Homo sapiens: one gene and its partners. The protein of the gene in region 2 interacts with the protein of the main gene of each other region in a pairwise test. Each region holds a gene or a part of one and is shown on either strand. Other genes may lie near its edges.

Evidence for each region. Proteins that work in one complex are often made in the same cells at the same time.
Region 1: the proteins of TEK (region 2) and PTPRB interact in binary tests that used the Homo sapiens proteins (3 or more experiments, as listed by UniProt).
Region 3: the proteins of TEK (region 2) and PTPRC interact in binary tests that used the Homo sapiens proteins (3 or more experiments, as listed by UniProt).

What each region holds. Positions count from the first base shown.
Region 1 is NC_000012.12:70,515,425-70,522,453, forward strand, and holds the end of PTPRB (receptor-type tyrosine-protein phosphatase beta), read right to left. Parts: exon of another isoform or gene 6,088-7,029; coding exon 6,065-6,087; 3' UTR 446-6,064; downstream 1-445. UniProt on the Homo sapiens protein: Plays an important role in blood vessel remodeling and angiogenesis. Not necessary for the initial formation of blood vessels, but is essential for their maintenance and remodeling. Can induce dephosphorylation of TEK/TIE2, CDH5/VE-cadherin and KDR/VEGFR-2.
Region 2 is NC_000009.12:27,112,207-27,119,235, reverse strand, and holds part of TEK (angiopoietin-1 receptor isoform 1 precursor), read right to left. Parts: intron 1-7,029. UniProt on the Homo sapiens protein: Tyrosine-protein kinase that acts as a cell-surface receptor for ANGPT1, ANGPT2 and ANGPT4 and regulates angiogenesis, endothelial cell survival, proliferation, migration, adhesion and cell spreading, reorganization of the actin cytoskeleton, but also maintenance of vascular quiescence.
Region 3 is NC_000001.11:198,642,016-198,649,044, reverse strand, and holds part of PTPRC (receptor-type tyrosine-protein phosphatase C isoform 1 precursor), read right to left. Parts: intron 1-7,029. UniProt on the Homo sapiens protein: Protein tyrosine-protein phosphatase required for T-cell activation through the antigen receptor. Acts as a positive regulator of T-cell coactivation upon binding to DPP4.

The DNA of each region.
Region 1 (7,029 bases), on a different chromosome or scaffold from region 2:
TTCCACTAAAATATGAAAAAGGCAAAAGGGCAAACTCATAACTCTGGAAATAGTCATGGCGTCTCTTTACCAAATGCCACACTGTCCGCAAATGTGTGAAGTGTCTCTGAAGGGCTCAGTGGAAATCTAGCCAGGGCAGTACCTCTGAGAGTACACCAACACTGTTGGTAACAGATGACATTTTGGTTATTAATGAAGTAAAGAACTGAAAACAGGAATTTAGTTGGAGACGGTCAGCTGGAGAGTCTATTATTATGTACACAATACTGTAGGTAACCAACTCAGTACTTACAGGACTAAAGGTTAAGACAACTATATTCTTCATGATAATGTCCTGGAAGATTTTTCTCATTTTAAAGCAGTCACTTTTGGCCTTTCTCCTGAACAGACAGATGACAAAAATTGATAAATGAGGAGCAGGTGAATAGAAGACAGAGCACTCTCCTTCAACAAACTGCAGTTTTATTCCTGTACTAGTGAGAATGTATGCAAGATGCTATATAGATTTTTTTTTTACCACAGTTACAAATATAAAAATGTATTAAGCAAATACATAATTTAAATTGAAAGACTAAGGAAGTTCTTTGTTCAAATACAGTTAGTTAGAAATATTGTGGGTAGATGCTATAATATGAAAAAATAGAATCATCTGCCATCTTAACTGGATTTTCAGAGAAATAATAAATGATATTAAAAACATAAAAGTGCTCTATTATAGAACATAAAAAGTTCAGTTGCTGTATTTACTTACATTATTTATGCTTCACACAAATGAAGGAATGGCTAGATTAACCTGCACGGACAACAGTATTATTGGACACTGACTACCTAACATCCAAAATATCAGGCCAGGAGCAATTTCAAGAAGTGTGTGTAGAATGTCTATGAGCTGTGCACTAATTTCCACAAGGTAGGAGTCGAGACGAGATTAAAGACTTGGTCCTTGTTCTTGAGGAATTTATAAGCCCAATAGTCCTGCATAGAAAACCAGAAATACTCTTCCAGTAGAGCACTGGTGCACCCTCTTGTCAGTGTGGCAGACTAGGACATTCCACAAAGGCTGGTACAGGCTTTCCTACTAACCTGCAGATGGAATGCTGTCCAACTCTGCCACAAACTCTTAAAGCCACAATTTCATGTGTTCCTTTCTTGATGGAGGTGCTTATCTACGCACACAGCTATTAGAACATCTCAGCATAACTGAACGTTTGTTCTTGGGGTGAGGATATTATTTATTAAAATAGCTATAACCAATTCTTTTTGTGACTGTTCTAGAAGGGACACATTGCATTTGTCTGACATTATTCACAGTTTTGAATAACTTATTTTGGTGTCTTATATAAGATCATGTGAATTGGCATAGAGGTTATAAAAATAATCTTTGGTAAACCTGTTAATCTCTTATTTCCATTACATAAGCCTCTATTTTCAGAGCATTCACCAACAATTTCTTTATTTAATAAGTGTATCTTATATAGACAATCTTTTAAAAAATAAAATGCCTTATTTGTGTTGCATACATTTATTCCGAGGGAGCCTCCCTACAAGTCAAGAGTATTCTCTTAGCCAGAAATACTTCTATTGCTAGAAACATTTTTAGAACAGAACAGATTTTTCCTGTTATCATGGCTGCATCAAATGTTACCCTGCATTTTAACTAAAATGGCCAAACATTTTCAAAGTCATCATGCACTACAAGAATCTAAGGCAGTGTGTCTAAAATGCCAAACCCAGTACATTTAGTTAAATATCTGGTCAATTCAAAAAGCAAAATAAATTGATTCAATTGTTTAATCAGTTAAACCATCTGGCCAACATAGAGTGAATCCTCAAAAGGGCAACATGTCCTAATAGAAACGTGTGACAGGATTGTCCAAGCACACCCAGGCCACACAGAAGAGATGCCATTTTATCTTCATGATGATGTCTGGTTAGATTCTGTTTTGCAAATATTTTCTCTTTGCATCATTTCACTTGCTTTTTGCAGTCATCGTTTACAGATTTTCCTTTGATAGGGAACATTCTTTGAATACCTGATGTAATTCTAAATTTCAGGTTAAAAATAGCAGGGCAGAAAATTAGCACGGCATTTTCTCCTTCAACTCTTCAGGAATGAGGTAGGCTTGAGGGCTTGCTCACTGCAACTTGGAGGAGGATCAGTTATTCCTTATTGCCACTCTGTCTTGGCTAATCAGTTATATTTTCATTTCCTCAGTGAAATGGAACCCAGAAAGCCCTTGAACTGCTATCATATACAAGCAGTTTATTACCTATTGATTTTCACCAGGTCAGGTTTGGTCTGGCTCATGTTTGTAAACTAAAACTCTAGAGCGTCTCAGAGTTTGGGCTCAGATACTACCACTGCTGTTGTGCAGATCTGGTAGCTTTATGATTTCAGGATTCCAACCTCAAAGAATTCTTAGAAAGCTAAGTGAATGAGAATTTAGTATATGGCCAATAATATTATTGCAAAAGGTAAGGAAAATGTTTAACATAAGAAACTGGATCCTTAAACAGCAAGGCAAGAGAATCAGCATGTGAAGGGTAGCATGTGAGGTCTATTTTTATATTGCTGGACATCTGGTAAATGGTTTAATATTATTTTCACATGTCATTTTGGGCTTTCTTCCGAGAGGTGATTACAAAATTTATCAAAGACCCTCCCAAAGAAAACTGCCCCGAAAATGTCTGTGTGCTGTGTGCCTTTTAGTATTTAAAAGTGAATTGGCCAGGTGCGGTGGCTCACTCTTGTAATCCTAGCACTTTGGGAGGTTGAGGTGGGTGGATCACCTAAGGTCACGAGTTCAAGACCAGCCTGGCCAACATGGTGAAACCCCATCTCTACTAAAAACACAAAAATTAGCCAGACATGGTGGCAGGCACCTGTAATTCCAGCTACTTGGGAGGCTAAGGCAGAATCGCTTGAACCTGGGAGGCGGAGGTTGTAGTGAGCTGAGATTGTGCCACTGCACTCCAGCCTGGGCAACAGAGCAAGACTTCATTTCAAAAAAAAGTGAAATTATGGTCATCTCTTTGATGATGTGGAACCTGAAAGGACTATGAAATTATACTCATGGGTATAAAAGATAATATGAACAGTAGATAAAAATCACATTCAACTGGGAAAACAAACATATTCAAGTAGGAGGAGTGGGGCAAGTAATAAAACAGAGGGACTCAGAGGTTTAAGGGATAGAGAATTACTTAGGACAAATATGTGCAAGCCCAGGTAAGAGAGGTGAGTCTTTGAAAATTCTGATTCAAGAGCTGAACAATTGGCTGCTTTCCAGAGAACAACAGAATGACAATACAAAATTGATTTAATGAGATGAGGTTAAAGGAGTTAATTATAACGAACTTGGAAAAATAATTATTAAGATGCTAGATGGGACTCTCCCAAGATTTGATAGCTCAAAAGCACTTTGAAGTCTTGATGATTAAAGTGTACTGCACAGGTACACAGACAGGATGCCCACCAAGACAGGAAATGGAGTGTTTACCAAGACATAACACATGATGCAATTAAATGGAAATAAATCCAATAGAGCTGAATGTCAAGGAAAACTTTTTTTTTCTCCTAAATTTAATAAATAAGTCAATTATATATTTAGTCTTCCCAGGAGTAGGAGCGAATAGTGAAATATTTGTTGCTAAGAAGGTTTAAAATTAGGTGTAGGGTAGGAATAAACATTTCCTGGGTTGGATTAGACTAAAAAAACCTACGATTTTTCCCTGTCATGTCCATTTACATAATTCTGATACTACCCTAGATGTTGCCAGAGTACGTGAGTGTTATTTACTATTACAGATGCATAGGTTTTTTTTATGGTTTTAACTCCTGGTTTGTGCAATTAATTGCTCTCTCTCCTAGATCCAGAGGTTTGCTATTAAAGTAGCATTAGCACTTTCCAGTGTGTGGCCTGTGGAAGGTGACCACTGTCCTAGACTGGCTCAGTTATCCCATTCCCTTGATGAGGCTGTCTTTTAAGCTCAATTGAAGGTAGTAACAACAATCCTAACTTTATGAGGATTCTCTTTATGTGAGTAGAAATGTGTAGATTCTGGAACAGTGCCTAGCAGGTTGCAGATACTTACTAGAAGTTTTCTGAGTGAATGAAAAGTCGAAAATGAATGTATCCTTCCAAGCATTAATGTGCTTTGCATCAAGCAACATTAGTGTAAAATTCTGCTTTTTCTCTTTTTTCTTTTCAATGTAGGAAAGGTGATTTCTAATGGATGCCACACGTTGTAGATCTCTGACCTCTATTTTCTCGCTGGTGGTACATCTACTGCACTTACACATATGTTGTTCCTTTTCATTTCCAGAAGATTCACTTAGTTCCTTGATACAGAATCAGAGCTTAAGACTGTCATTTCACAAGAGCATTGAGCACAATGAAACTGTGAATCTTTGAAGCTTATGATTATGCTTCACATTTTTGTAAACTTCAAATAACCTTGGAAAAATTTCCAGATTGGGTGTAGAGTTATTTAATTATAAAGAACTATTTTAGGTATAGTCAATGATTTTCAATTATTATGTCAATTACATTCGTTGTATTCACTTACGGACTTTATGGTAGGTTACAAAAATATATACTTTGAAAAGAAATATACTCTTTATGCAAAGGAAGCTATGCCATCAACAAACTTGACCTCTAATTCCCAAGTTTATTACAGAAAAATTTGTAGTGTGAAAAAGGCAAACATCTCCAGCTCATCTTCTCAGGTATCTATGAAGATTCCGTACAAACTCCTTTCAAATTTTTCCCAGGAATGCTGTCGGAACTGGACCTTGATGAAGGAAATACTTTCTGACTCATTGGAATTTGTTATAGTCAAAGTAAGTAAGGCACAAATATTGAAGATAAACTTGGTACAGTATGTAGTGCCTTTTGTTATTAAATGCAACTTTGGGTGATTACTTGACATTTTGACTTCATTGATTTACTAAAAGAAGTTTTGAAAATTTTACTGAAGACCACTGTTTTTGTTTTTGCTATTGTTTTTAAATTTACTATATATGATGTTTGTAGTCATTTCTATGAAAATGTTGGCATTAAGCCTTTTAATGAGGGGCACAATCTGCTACCATAATATTCTTTTAATGGGAAATCAAGTAGGAATGGATAATTGTGACTTTTCTAGGAATGGAGACCACTGAAAATGAGACAGAAACTAGTGTGTATAAATACATTACAGTATGGGTGTGGATGTTCACACTCCACACCATGAATGCAATGAAAGGATCTCTAATCACTGTAGATAGTGCTTTGCATGTTATGTTTCCAGTCTGGGTATAGCTGGCATCTTATTAACAAAAGGAATTCATCACTTCTGTTTGGAATCATTCTCTATCAGAACCCTCAACCCTGCATCCTACCATCCTGGGCTTGCACTGCAAGTTACATGATCCCTGAGCTGACCACTTTGGCTTGAATCCCTGGAAGGAGAAAGGAGAGAGAGAGCAACTAGTTCAGACACAAGCATCTAGTTCAGCTTTGGTACTGCTTAATTCTTTTTTCTCCCTCCCTCTAATCCTTTTTTTGACTGTCACATTTGTCCTAATAGCAAGTTAGGACATGTCTGTTGGCTCTCGAGATTCATGGGACAGCAATGCAGCAAATCTAGCCATAGTATTTGCTCTCTCTAGCCCTGCCCTTTTTCCTGTCCAGTGAATATCAAAACAGGTAGAAAACATGGCCTGAAGGATTGTCTCTGCCACCACCTCCATATGCATTTTACCAGTAGTCCTGTCATACAGGTTGAATTAGTTTTATGTAGAACAAGTCATGAACACTTTAGTGTGGAAAAATAGTATTATATAAAGCTTAATATTAAACATTATGAAAAATACATATTTACAGAAGAAACTACAAAATACAACTATGTACAATAATATCTGTTACCTTTAAATTATATAAAATTTTAAACATTCTCCAGATTAATAAATTATACATAGTATCAACAGAAATAGCTGGCACCTCTGTAGGGCATGAAGCAAGTTTTTAAAAACAAATCACACAGTGAATAATTTTTATCCAGGAGCTCTTCAGGTACATTCTCAATGCCTTGAATAGACTGGATCTGAAAGGAAGAACACTGTAATTAGAGACTGCCGCAGGGTGTGTCATAATTGTTTACGCTGTTTATGAAAATTACCAATGTGAAAGACCAGCAGAAACATATAGCTCAACCTAGTTTAAGATGAGACCATTCCTATTGGGACCAGGTAATTCCATTTAGAAAGACAGATTATTAGACTTGGAAGGGACTAGTGATTCTAGCCCATCGCCTCTGTTTTTATGGATGAAGCCATAGGCCCAGAGAGGCAGAGTAACTTACTCAGGGTTACACAGCTTGTTACAGCTAGTTAGTTCGAGAGTTCGGACCTGAATCTTAGCCTTCAGCTACGTGGTGGTTATCCTTTTCTATACCATAGTTAGCTTCTTTCAGGAGTGCTCAAGATTACTCTAAAAAAAGATTCTTAAGTCAAAACAAGACAAAGGAACCTCCAAGATCCCTCAGAACTTGCTCATACTGAAGCCTCTTAAGGAATCTCCCATGCAAAAACCTTAATTTACTATACAGATCAATTAGGGTGTAATTTGTAATTATTCATAATACAAAATAATTATCTGATTTACAAAGGACTCCTCTAAATAGTAGCTCTTTATTTGTGCTTTACAGATGCTAACTCATTAACATACTGGCTAGGCTGGGTGGTAGAGAGAACTAAGTAAAAGGTTAGGAGACACTACCTGTTGAAGATCATTTAGAATGGAGATAAGAGGGTATGAAATAATGTTTGTCAAAGAAAGATTATCTGATTTATAGAGAGATACCAGTCCACATGGCAAGGAATTGTGGCTGCATCTGCCCACAGCCATGTGAACAAGCCATTATGAAGCGAGTCCTCCAGCCCCAGTCAAACCTTCAGATAATGGCAGCCCCAGTCTAAGTCTTGACTGCAACCTCCTGAAAGACTCTGGGCCAGAGCCACCAGTGAGACAATAAATGCTGATTTAA
Region 2 (7,029 bases):
TCGAAGGCAGCACAGTGAGGTGTTTTAAAGAGCCCAGGATTCGGGTTCAGGTCATTTTTCAGTGTAACTCTTGTCTCCATCATTTCCTACTGAGACATGTGGTCAGTCAGGATGATTCACTTCCAAGGGATAGAAGCTAACTCAAAATAGCTTAAACAAATAAAAGAAACTAGCTCACAGAACTGAAAGAGGCAGGGCTGCGTGTTTGAAAATCCTTGGACCCACGTCTCAAATGCTATCAGAGTGCCTGTCTTGGTCCATCTTTTGTTATTGGCCTCATTCTCTCGTACTAAAGACTAGCTTCCTTCAAGTGGTCAGCGAAGTTGGTAGCTCCAGGGATACAGTGTCCTCTATGAAGAAAGAGAGGCTTTTGCTTTCAAAGTGCTCATAAATTCCCAGGGAAAGAGTCTAACTGGCCCTGTTGGGTTGTGCATCTTCTGTTTGAACCAACTGCTGTTGTTAGTTGGCTGGGACATTCTGTGACCAGTGATTGGCAGACCCATCAGAATCACCTAGAGGGAAAGCACGGCAGTTCTTGAAAGTTTGAAATGTTAGGCATCCAAAATAATGGATGGCCGCCATTTTCCGGTTTGTTGTTGTTAAGATGAGGTCTCACTATGTCACTCAGGCTGGAATGCAGCGGCATGATCACGACATTCATGCAGCCTAAAACCCCCAGGCTAAAGCGATCCATCTATCTCAGCCTCCCGGGTTGCTGGGACCACAGGTGTGTGCCACCATACCCAGCCAATATTTGTATTATTTGTAGAGATGGGTCTCCCTATATTGCCCAGGATGGTCTCGAACTCCTTGGCTCAAGCAATCTGCTTGCTTTGGCCTCCCAAAGTGCTGGGATTACAAGCACGAGCCACCACACCTGGCTGGTCACTTACATTTTAACCTTGGACATGTCACTTAACCTTTGTGAGCCTTGGTTTCCCTGTCTATTAAAAAAATAATAATACCTATAGTGTAAAGTTGTGAAATATTAAAAATCATATTTAACACTTGGCACATAAAGGCATTCAACCTAGGGTAGTCATTTTTGTTATTACTGGTACTCTTATTGTTTTGTGGTTGTTTCTGACACAGGGATCAGAATTTGAAGCCCATCCCAGATTCCCAGATGTCTAAAGCACTCCTGTCCCCAGGGTGGAGTCCCCTTTGGCTCTGCAGCCAGACGCCTTGCACAACCCAGGCCCTGTGTGCCAAGGTTAAGCTGGTTCACCATCTGACGGCCGCAGAGCAGTGAGTGCCTCCCCAGCCCCAGCAATGTCAATACTGCCTTCCTGACTCCGCCTATTGTATCTGGAGGAAAGTGGCCGAGCATTGTCTTCCAGTGCTCCCCCCAGGAAGCATGATATCACCCTTTAACAAAAGCGGGAAAGCTGACAGATCTGCTGAGATGGGTGTGACCAGCACATACACCTCACTGGTCAAGCCCTGGGCAAGGGGCTGTGACAAGCAGAGAGCAAATGACAGCCGCCCACGATGCCCTTCAAACCCCACGCCTGACTGGCTTCTTTGGCTAGTCCAAATTTTCTCCCTCTCTTTGTCACACTCATACCACATTAGACATGAAACCACCAAGCAATGGGTATGTACTTCCTCTAATATGCAGATGTGTTGAAAAGTGTCAGGACTCTGCATCTGGCACATCCACGTCTTCACACCTGCTCCTGCAGCCTTTGGGAAGGAGCAGGAGAGAAGAATGATCAGATTCCTGAAGGCACACAAGGGGACAATGGGGGTGGGGCTGGGGGAAGAGGTCACAGCTAGATCTAAAACTCATTCTGCAGGTGTAACACGAGTTAAGGAATCGTCTGGCCAGATGGGTAAGAATAGGGTTATCAGTTCAAAATTCCAAAAATAAGGGAGGCAACTTTAGACATTCCCTTTCCTGAAAGCCAGGAGTGAAGCCAGCTGCTCTCTTCCAGCTCTGGTTTGGTGATGCTGCCGGTGCAGCTGGCTCTCTGTAAAATAACACACCTGCAGGCTGGTGCTCCAGTGTCAGGCCCGGAGGCTGTTACTCTGCTGCCCCATCTTACTGTCTTCTTAAAATTCTCTTTCCGGCCGGGCGCAGTGGCTCACGCCTGTAATCCCAGCATTTTGGGAGGCCGAGGCAGGCGGATCACTAGGTCAGGAGATCGAGACCATCCTGGCTAACACAGTGAAACCACGTCTCTACTAAAAATTAAAAAAAAAAATTAGCTGGGCGTGGTGGCAGGCGCCTGTAGTCCCAGCTACTCGGGAGGCTGAGGCAGGAGAATGGTGTGAACCTGGGAAGCGGAGCTTGCAGTGAGCCGAGATCGCACCACTGCACTCCAGCCTGGGGGACTGAGCGAGACTCCGACTCAAAAAAAAAAAAAAAAAAAATTTCTTTCCATGGCTGCTACAGCAGCAATTCTCTAAAGTCCCAGGATAGGAATGTCATTGGTTTTGCTTCTCCTGTCAGCTCCTTACCTGTTTCTTCTTCATCAAATTTTTGGGTATCTGCTCTTTCTCGTTCCTTCATTTCAATCTTGAAATATAGCCATGCCCGTGGCTTCACTTACCATATACCAAAGATTTCTACATCTCAATCTCTTGCCCAATCCCCTTCCTCTGAGCTTCAGATGTGGGCAGCCAAATTTTGATAAATATCTTCCTTTATGGCCAGGTGCGGTGGCTCACGCCTGTAATCCCAGCACTTTGGGAGGCCAAGGCAGGTGGATCATGAGGTCAGGAGTTCAAGACATGGCCAACGTGGTGAAGCCCCGTCTCTACTAAAAGTACAAAAATTAGCCGGGTGTGGTGGCAGGTGCCTATAATCCCAGTTATTCAGGAGGCTGAGGTGGGAGAATCACTTGAACCGGGGAGGTGGAGCTTGCAGCGAGCCAAGATCGTGCCACTGCACTCCAGCCTGGGCGACACAGCAAGACTCAGTCTCAAAAAAAAAAACTTCCTTTACATGTAGCCTCAAAATCAACATGAACAAAATAATTATTTGCCTTATCCCAGCCCACCTCCATTCAGCACACTGAATGGCACCACCATTATCCAAATCAGAATGCTGGAGCAATGACTTATTCTCCTCCCTCCCTCTCAACCTTCCATATACAACCAATCACTAACTCCTGCAGTTTCACCTCCTAAATCTCTCTCAAGCCCCCTGTTATCCTCACAGTCCTCTTGCCTGGAATGTTAGGAAGCCAACTTGGTCCCAGCCTATGGTCTCTACCATGTTAATCCATCCTGAAAACTATTATTAGAGTGAATTTTTCAAGACATAAATCTGATATATGACATGATAGAACAAACACTCTGCTAAATTTCAACATGTACAGAATGAGGGACAACCTACTTAAAATGGCCTGTGAGGCCCTTCTTGATCTGACCCCAACTTTAATTCTCTACCTTCATCCTACATTACAGCTTCACTCAGCTTCCTTAAGCCTGCCCTGCTATTTTATACACACCCCCTTTGTATAGGTTGCTCCCTCTATGTCCTTTCTTCCCTTTTCCTTTTCATCTTGGTTTCAAAATCATTTGGCTATGAGCAAGTTATAACTATAACTGGACCTGACTTTTGGCAATATTCACAACTATTTAGGAGTTCTTGCAAAGACAGAAAAATCAACCTACAAGTTGTTTTCAAAATACTACTCATTTTCTTTAGTTGACATTCCACGTTTTTAGACATTTAATTAAATATTTATGTTCAATTTAGTTTCGTTTGTTTGTTTGTTGTTTTTTTTGAGACAATGTCTCGCTCTGTTGCCTAGGCTGGAGGGCAGTGGTATGATCATGGCTCACTGCAGCCTTGACCTCCCAGGCTCCAGCAATCCTCCCACTTCAGCCACCCGAGTAGCTGGGACTACATGCACGTGCCACCATGCCAGGCTAATTTTTGTATTTTTTGTAGAGATGGGGTTTTGCCACGTTGCCCAGGCTGATCTGAAACTCCTGGGCTCAAGCGATTTGTCTGCCTCAGTCTCCCAAAATGCTAGGATTACAGGTGTGAGCCACTGCACCAGACCTTTATGCTCAATTCAGATATTGCTATTTCATTTTGTATCATTGGACCCAATAAAAACTTTTACAGCCCTTGAAAAGCTCAGATTTTGTAAATACCTTTATTTGCTGTAATATCTCTATTAAATCATTTATCACAACATTTTACAATTCATCCGCCTATATTCATTTTTCCCACTAAAATGTGAGCTTAGCAAAGGGAAAAAATTATTTATCCTTATTTATATTCCTAGTTTCCAGGACAGTACATGGCTCAAAGGAAACCCTCAATAAGTCTTTGTTTATTGAAAGGATAGATGAGTGAATGAATGAATGAATGATTGGCACACAGTAACTCAATAAATATCTATTGAATAGAAAATACGACTATGTTATAGGTAATATTCAACAATCATACAATACCTCATCTTAAGTAAGGCCCTGGTTAGAACCACTTTTATGAGTATATCTTTTATGTTTCACACCTAACAGAAGAAACTTTCTTTCAACTTTATTTACATCAAACATTTAATATAAGCTAAACTTTTAAGATGAGAGTGAATATCATTTACAAGATATATAAAATTGATTATCAGATTGGTGCAAAAGTAACTGCAGTTTTTACCACTACTTTTCACCAACCTAATATTAAATTTTTTTTTATTTTTTTTTGAGACGGAGTCTCACTCTGTCATGCAGGCTCGAGTGCAGTGGCATAATCTCGGCTCACTGCAACCTCTGCCTCCCTGGTTTAAGAGATTTTCCTGCCTCAACCTTCCGAGTAGCTGGGATTACAGGCACATGCCACCATGCCCAGCTAACTTTTGTATTTTTAGTAGAGGCAAGGTTTCACCATGTTGGTCAGGCTGGTCTCGGACTCCTGATCTCGTGATCTGCCCACCTTGGCCTCCCAAAGTGCTGGGATTACAGGCATCAGCCAACGTGCCTGGCCCAATGTAATATTATTATTTCGATGTTACTGAGATCCTTTCTACAATGTTCTCTTTTCCTTTCAGCTCCGCTGTGAAGTACCAACATTTTCTTACTGTGACCATAAAACTCCATTCAACAGAAATTACTAAACATTAAATACATGTACTAATGAGAATAGAAAAGAAATAATATCTGTTGTGAGAGATTTAGAGGCTAATTGGGCTAAATCTGGCTGCCCAAAGCTCAAAGACACAATCTGCATGGTAAAGGAGCCTAAACTTAGGGGAAGAACATCAGGAGGAAGAGTTGGCCTGGGCAAATTGAGTTGAATTGTGTTTGCAGAGTAGAGATGAAAGATGCCATTTCTAAATGGATGGAACAGCATGAACAAGAGCCAAGAGGAAAGAATGTGTAGATTGTGGAGATGGGCCTGGTTGAAGCAGACAAGATACAAACAGGGATAAATGGATAAGTGAGGGGAGGGTAGATGGGTAGTTGGCAAAGTGTTTGGGTTTATTCAGTTGGAATTGGCCAGCACAAAGTTTGAGAGACAGGATTATACTGAGGTTTTGTAGAAAGAGACAGCATCTATGAATATTAAGTGGTTCTCCTACATCCTGGGGCAGATTAGATCAGTCTTGACTAGCACAGTGGTTCTCATAGCAACACTTCTCTTTTGATTATACTAGCTTCATTATTTATTTTATTTTATTTTATTTTATTGAGACGGAGTCTCACTCTGTCACCAGGCTGGAGTACAATGGCGTGATCTCAGCTCACTGCAACCTCTGCCTCCTGGGTTTAAGCGATCCTCCTGTCTAAGCCTCCCGAGTAGCTAGGACTACGGGCACACACCACCACACCTTGCTAATTTTTGTATTTTAGTAGAGATGGGGTTTCACCATGTTGGCTAGGATGGTCTTGATCTCTTGACCTCATGATCCACCTGCCTGGGCCTCCCAAAGTGCTGTATTACAGGTGTGAGCCACAGCACCAGGCCCCAAGCTTCATTTATTAAGAGAGTTCTCACTGGCTAAGCATTTCACAGGCATTATCACATTTGATTCTCATCACAACCCTGGAAAATGGGTATTTCATCCATAAAAGATGAGAAAAATGTGGCTTAGAGAAATTAAATAACTTGCTTATGGTTATCCAAGTTGGGCTTTGACTTTGTAATCCATGTTTCCTCCTTCAGTTTGCCTGCTATGTTCGCTGTTAAATTTCTCAGGTCTTCAGTGCTTCATGGATGTGCTCTTAGCAGTAGATTTCAGTGAAGTGATTACCATTTCTGATTTGGACTTCATATTTCTGCTAATACAACATATGACAGCTTATGCAGTACCTTTTTAGCAAGCAGAGCCTATGTTGTCTTCCATGACTTTTGTGTATCCCCAAAACCTAGGTGTCATTCACAAGAACTTTCAACAAACCAGGTCTCTCCCACATTAAATATACATAACTTATTTCTTGAACCCAAACACAGAACCAGACATTTACCTATTTTGAAATGGTATCTTTTTGTTTTGGTTTTCCACCCTTCCAGCCTAGAACAATCTATTTAAATCCTGATTCTGTGAGCTCACCAGTAAGCCATCTACAGAGAATAAGCAGGTGATACAATCACACAGATATCCTTTGGGGAGATAGAGGCTCAGGAGGCAAACTGATAATTTCAGAAGAATTTAGAGCCCACCCACCTAAATTCCCCAGAGAACATCACATAGTCTTTTGAGATGAACTTAGAAGACTCCTTCCCTCCTGGAGAGACGCCTTGGAAGAACTAGACTCTTCCAGGAAGCTCTCCCAGGGCAGGGCTGAAAGGGAAATGCTGAGACCTAACAAACAATAAAGACAATGCTTGGAAGGGAGCATCTGTGAAAAAAGCAAGCTCCTCCCTCTGAGAATAATTCCAAAGGGTGTCTCCGATCCCAGCTTTCAGACCTCCACCCTTGATTACTCAGACTTGACACTAGCCTTCTGAGACCAGCCCTAACAAGGGGGTTTCATCTGGGAGCACTTCCCTGACCTTACAACTGTTTCCTCTGCCACCCCAGACAAGATGTCTGCTATCTCTGAATCCAGTTGTTATTTAAAATGTCA
Region 3 (7,029 bases), on a different chromosome or scaffold from region 2:
ATGACTATGAAAAGATTATCTAGTGTCTACACTTCCTGGAATAAGATGAGAACCTTATGTGTTTTCCATGATCAAAGTGTTTAACAAAGGTCAAGTTACTTCCCTTGCACTTCAAAAACAAAAAAAAATCTAGATACTTTGGTGAATTATTTAATGTTTTTCACTTTATGTAATATCAAAAATGAGTTGGGTGGGGGAAAATCCATTCTTTCCATCATATCACTCACCTCAAGACAGACTCAGTCCTGTCCTTTGTTAGCCTCCTTTTCAGGATGATTGTAACACATCACATCAGTATTCATAGTGAAGACAAATTAATCAAAGATGTCTTTTTGTTTTTTATAAAAGTCATACAATCTTATGTGAATTTTACATAGATACAGAATATGCTAAAGATATAGAAGCAGCTCAGTGCACAATGGTTCATGTAAGTAGCTAAATCAGGTGAATGAACTTACATGCATATGTCACACAAACAACCTCTGAGAAATTACCAGCTCCCATTCAGTCCTGCTGTGATTTGCCCATCATCACACAGTCATGTCTTAAATTCCAGGTTATTAAACTGACCACTAAGAAGATTGAGTAACCGAGTGGAAAATCTAGAATCTGGTCTATCTAGAATCAGATAGACCCCGATTAAGACCCCAGCCTTCACCCCACCCCCTACAACTCTCATTTGCTATTAGCTGGTGACCTTGGAAAATTAGAAAGACTACCAAAAAAAAGTAAGAATTTGTTTGTGTGCTGTGTATTTCTGTATGTTTTCCCTTTTCTCTCCACATAAACATTTTTTCAGAATAAATTACAAAACAAACAAACCAAAACAAAATAGGACTATTGTCTAGTACCTCTTCACATCTACCAACTTTATTTATTGAATATCTAATAATAATCTACACAACTCAGTGGCAGCACCAGAACTTCCATAATTTAAAAGTCTGCAAAGAAAATCTGGTTGTAACAGGGACCTGGAGGAAGTCTTGTAAGAATATAAGTTTTACTTAATATGTTATATATAGATCTTAAGATAGTGATTTTTAAATTTATAATTTATAAAACATTGATAACACCAATAATTATCTGTAGCAAGGTATGTTGTTACTTTGAGGAGGAAGTTTTGGGGTGCTGATGAAGATTTTGGAAGATTTAAAACACCATCTCCAAGAAGCCACTGATAGAAAATACGGGCTTCATGGGATAGGTGTCCTCAGCCCAAATTACATGGAAAACACTCACAAAATAGTTGTTTATCAAATGAACTAATAAGTTAATAAATAACTGAATAGATCTAGTTGTCCTAGTCAAATGAAATACTCAAAAAGTTTTTAGATCCTGAGAACTGGAAACCTGAAATTCTTATTTTTCTATTCATTTCTATATTTTTCAAATTGTCTAGAATAATCAAGGTTTACTTGGGAAAAAATTGAACATGAAATTTCATACACAGCATGTGATCAAAAGATAGAGGAAGAAAAACAAAATGTTAGCATGGGCTCTAAGCAATTTCTTTTTCCTTCTATTTCTTGACATTTTCCAAATTTTCTATTATGTAGAAATTTTTACCATAAATAATTCCCATAAATAACAATAAAAGGACAGAATCAAAATTGTTTTTAAGAATTATTAAGTGCCTTCTACATACAGAGTTGGGTTAAGCTGACAGACCATTCGTTTGTTCAGCAAACAGGTACTGAGGACCTGCAGGCACTGGCAAATAAGCAGAGACCCAGTGATAGCCTACATGAGCTCACCAGTTGCTGCAAGAGAGCCTGGTAAAGAGAACTCCAAGAGAATTATTCAAAGGATCATCACAGCAGAAGAATACCTATGCAGGTGTGAAAGGGGCTGAAGAGCAAGGGTTATACAAGTGGGATAGGGGCTGTCTAGAGGACATGATCTTTACAGTAAATTTGAATACAATTTATAATTTGCACCATTGATAAAAAGATGTGGAGAGAAGGAAAAACAGCATGGCCAACAGTAGGAAGACCAAACAAGGTCACATTTTTAGAAAAATGCAAGTTACAAAAAGAGTCACAAAGTGGTTAGAGATAAAGCCAGACAAATCTGAAGAGATTCAATTACATATGTGTGTGCAATGCTAATTGCTTTTATTTTTCCTAAATGCACAAAGACCAAAGTAGGATGATTTGACACTTTCCCCACACACTATTTTACATTGAGAAGATTTTAAACTTATCACCTTGATTCTTCTCTTTACTTTTTGCTCCAATAATGAATAAGAAATTGGTACTAAGTGTGAAAGCTAATAAGAGGAATACCATACAAATGAATGAGAATTCAAACATAATAATTCCAGGCTATCAAGCAGTCTTAAAAGTGTTTCTAAAGTTTCTATTGGCTAGATAAGAAATAATCGAAAGTCTTAAAATTTCAAAATGAATCTAGCTCAAAGAGCTGTCAATCTCCACATTAATGTCACTGATAGAAATTTCAACACAACAAAAAATTGAGAATGGTTAATATTGCCCGATTTAAGTTTGACAAAAATGAAAAATTACATAAATTATATTTTTTGTAGCATTGAGACACAAAACCAATTAAAAAAACTAAACTAGCGGTAGCCAAAACTACACACAGAAAATGTTTCTGGCCAAAGAGAAGAATTTAAATGGTTTTGGAAAATTTAGATCTGTATTGTTTGAAAAGAAGAATTACCTTTAGAAAAGTAATAATCACAAAGGAAAATTCCAAGCATAAGCTATATTCAGTAGAACTTGACATGGGTAAAATGGATTCATGAATCTAATAGTTATTGTAAAAATTAAATGAAAGTGATGCTGCTAAACATTAGTTCAGTAAAATTAAAATTAAAATGGAAAAACTGCCAAGGATTTCACTAGGTAATATATATATAATCATCAGGGAATTAAATTGGTCTAATGGAGTTTTTTTCCTCCAAAATTTATCTTTAAGGAAAACTCATAAATGTTGGTATATTCTAATTAAATATTTGTTTTCATAAAAGTTGAGCCAAAACATACTTGGTATCAAATCACGGGTTCAGTATATTTTCTACCAATAGGAGCTTTTAAAAGAGGAATGGACAAAGGTAAGTTCTGCCTTTTACAAAGATTATCCTGGTAATGGTGGGTATGGACACAGTAAGGATTGAAGGCAGGTGAGACTTCAGGATATTTTTACACTAAGAAATCCCTGGCAAAGTAGAAGTGTGTGGATTTACAAACTATTTAGACTGTAGAATCTGGAGAAGCCTGAAAAATCTCTGAAATAAAGAATGCAAAGTTAAAAGAATTCAAAGGCCTATAAGGGATTATGCCTCTATCACTTAACCTTAAACTATCCCTTTATCTGCTCACAGTGTCTGAAAGGAAGAGATATCATTTGGAATCAAGTTTATGCTAAAAGGCTATGTGCTCTGATTTCATGGGCTCACATGAAAAAATTTACTTCTCAGAGTATCACATAATTTCAAAGCATTTTCACAAATATTATAACTTTTAATGCTTACAACACTTTATAGATGAGGAAATTGGGTCTCAAGGGTGAAAATTGATTTAGCTAAAAATCACAAGATTCATAGAGTTAGATTTTCAAAATATTTATCACTACAGATGTCATGATGTTTCCCAGCTTGGAGTGGTTTCTGCCTCATTTTCTATTATGCTTAATATGTTTTATCAGTAAATTATTATATTTTTCATCAAGTGGATGTGTTTAAAATATAGTGGCCACACTGTATTGCCATGATATTTATTGTGATTTTGATATTGTCTCTTAGCATCATTGTTATTTGTATAGGTTTCTCTAAACTATCTCTTGAATGACCACAGACAAATTGTACTTTAATTTAAAATGCAGAGAATGTCTTCTTGTCTATCAGTGATTTCTATCAAGTTTGCTATACCAGCTGTTCATATCCTAATACGTATGAGTGTGTTACCTGAGTTACCCTCAACTTTTGCCTTCTACTCCTACATTAGCAAATCCCTATTTTGGAGGGTGGATGGTTTTCTTCCAGGTATGCAAATTTTGATTATATTCTTAAATAAATGAATGATGATCATTTATACTTCAATATAATTGCATTGTAATTACAGTTTTATAATAAATACCCTGTATAGTAGAAACTGAAGTTTCAGTTAGGTGGCTTTTTCCTTTCAGACACTTGACTCATTTTTAGAGGAAATAAATATTGAATCTTTAAATACTATAGAGTTAAGCACCATAGAATATATTTGTTTAAGCTCGGTCTCTACTAAAATCTCTAATAAAAACTGATAATTTTGCTGATTGTCTGTTAAGAAATCAATCAATTGAAGGTACTATGAATGGATATAGAAGATGCTTGTTTACTTCACTAATATTGACTTTATGTGTATTTATTCTTGTCCTAGATGAAAGAGTAGGAAAGCTTTTGTTTCTCTATTTGTTCTTGTTTTTTGTTGTGATTCCTGAACATATAATTCTCTGCTTATAGTAGTCATTCCTAGACTCTTTTAACAGACTGATATTGAAGTAGCACACTGACATACAAACAGGAATGAAGATTAAATATTTTAGACAATAATTAGATATTTTCTAATATAAATATTGGTTAGAGCCAGGTACACAAAATCCAGTGATTGCCATAATTTTTATTCCTGTATATTTGGGTATTATATAGAAATAGGCATCAAATCATATTGCTAAAGTCTTGCCATATTTTTTTTCTGGTGTATCATATCTTAAAAAGTGAGGTCTTTATGTATGCAAAAGTCATAGCACTAAGCCTTTGGTAAAAGGCCACTGCTATGGGATTGAGTATCTAGTACTTACAAAGATATTTAGACTAGACAGAAATTAATTTTAAACTGAAGATATGTTAAATTTCCATTCTAATTGTTTCCCATGTAAATAACTACATAAATCTATAAGATGTCTAGAAAAAAAAATCAAAGGTCAGCACTGATGAAAAATTTCTCTCTCTGCACCAAGGTGACATATACACACATGGTCTGAAGATGAAACCTTGCCTTTGTGAACATTGTGTATTTACCAAGAGAATGAATCAACCTCAGTACAAATCTCTGCCCCTTACCTACTCAGATTGACATTCATCACCACACTGTCTGTAAAGAAATTATTCCCAGCTCTCTACAAACTTTTGTCGTGCAAATAATGCAACACCTAGGGTGCACCATATTCCATCTGCCCTTGCAAGCAATCCCAGAGCACTAGCATCAGTGTTCAAACCAGCAATTGCCATGACTGGACCTGATCTGTTTGTGTTATCACTCCGCTACATTTGTATTTCCCTCCCATTCCTTGCTTTTTCTCCTATGGGTATGTGTATCTGAAAAATAAAATTGACCCTCCAAATTACATTACCTAGAATGTCCAAAGAGCAGATCAAAGAAAATTTAGGAAAAACATTCTCAAACTATGAACTTTTAGGAAGTCAGGAGGCTCTTTCCAGACGAGAGGTGAGATAAGGAGAGTAAGAAAGGGAGCAAAGAAAAAACAAACAAACAAACAAACAAAAACAAAAAGGCAAGACTGTAAACATCTAGATCCAAAATCAACTTAATTTAATCTGGACAAAATAGTCCTGCTGTCTTCATCCTCCCACTTCGCCTCTGGTTAATTTTTTTATCTCATATTCTCCCTCTTTTTGACTTCCCTCTTTGAAAATTTTCCTTTCCTTTGTCACTACAATATGCAGTTTTATTTTTTTAATCTATGATTTATTCAGTGTCTGGTGAAAAATTAGGTATGGGAACTATGAGTTTATGCCTTTTGTGTCTCCTATACCTGATTTCATGTAGGTTACAATGTCAAGAAATCCACTAATTCACATGTCATCATCATCATCAATCATCATCACAAAAAAGAGCAGATTGAAATGACTTGAAAAATGCCAAGAAAAGGTGATAAAAAGTGTGCAATTCAATGGAAATATTTTGTGGCAAAAGTGACATAAGAGAACATAATAGAAGAAGTAGGATTTGCCCAGAACCTTAAACACCTTGAGAAAGTATAGAGGTGGGTGTTAAAACTACCTCCTGTTTGTTTTCTTTTAATCAATCATAGAAGAAAAAGAAAGAAAAAAGAAAGAAAGAAAGAAAGAAAGAAAGAAAGAAAGAAAGAAAGAAAGAAAGAAAGAAAGAAAGGAAGAAAGAAAGAAAAGAAAAAAGATCCCTTCCCAGCTCCAGGCCTAGCCCCCAGATCATTAGTGGAACCAGTTTCTCTGGCAAAAAAGATTAGAATTTATACCAAAGGCAATGAGAAGAAATCAGTAACCCTTCACTTTTTATTTTACTTTTTAAGCTGTAGATTACATTAAAAAAAGGATGAGACTTCAGACTGATTAAAAAAACTATTACAATTTTACAGGTGAGAAATAATAAAGCCATGAATTAAGATGATGGCAATGGAGGTGTCAAAGCAAGAAGTTATTAGAGATTATTACAAAGCAAAATTTCAGGACTTGGGGAGCATGTTAATGTCTGGATTTAGGAAAGGTAGTAAGTTCCGTGTTTCTGAGGGATGAGTCTAGAGATGGAGAATCAGAGTGATCAACACATAGTAGGCAATGATACGTAACCAAATGGAGAAAAGAGAACACAGGCGAAGGTCTGAAGTTCATGGGAACGCCAAATAGACAAACATGGAGAACTGATAGATAGATAGATAGATAGATAGATAGACAGATAGATAGATTGACTAGTATATATAACCCACAAATATATAACTAGTTTATGTGTGAGTATCTACATAAAGAAATATATGTTCAAGTATATGAACAATGTAGAAACATCTATATTTCTATACTGGTTAATTGTCACTGGTGAGAGGATAGCAAATAGTCCAGAACAAAGAAAGAACTAAGTTCAAGCTAACTACTCTGCCCCTATACTTACTTACACAGAACAAAAGAGAAAAAGATAATATAGGCCCTAGCCGTAGTCTTTCCTGTAACAAAGTACATTTCAAACTTTAGCAATGATAAAGGTCACAGGCAGGTTTTTAGTAGGACATTTTTTTTCAAATTAATAAGTAATT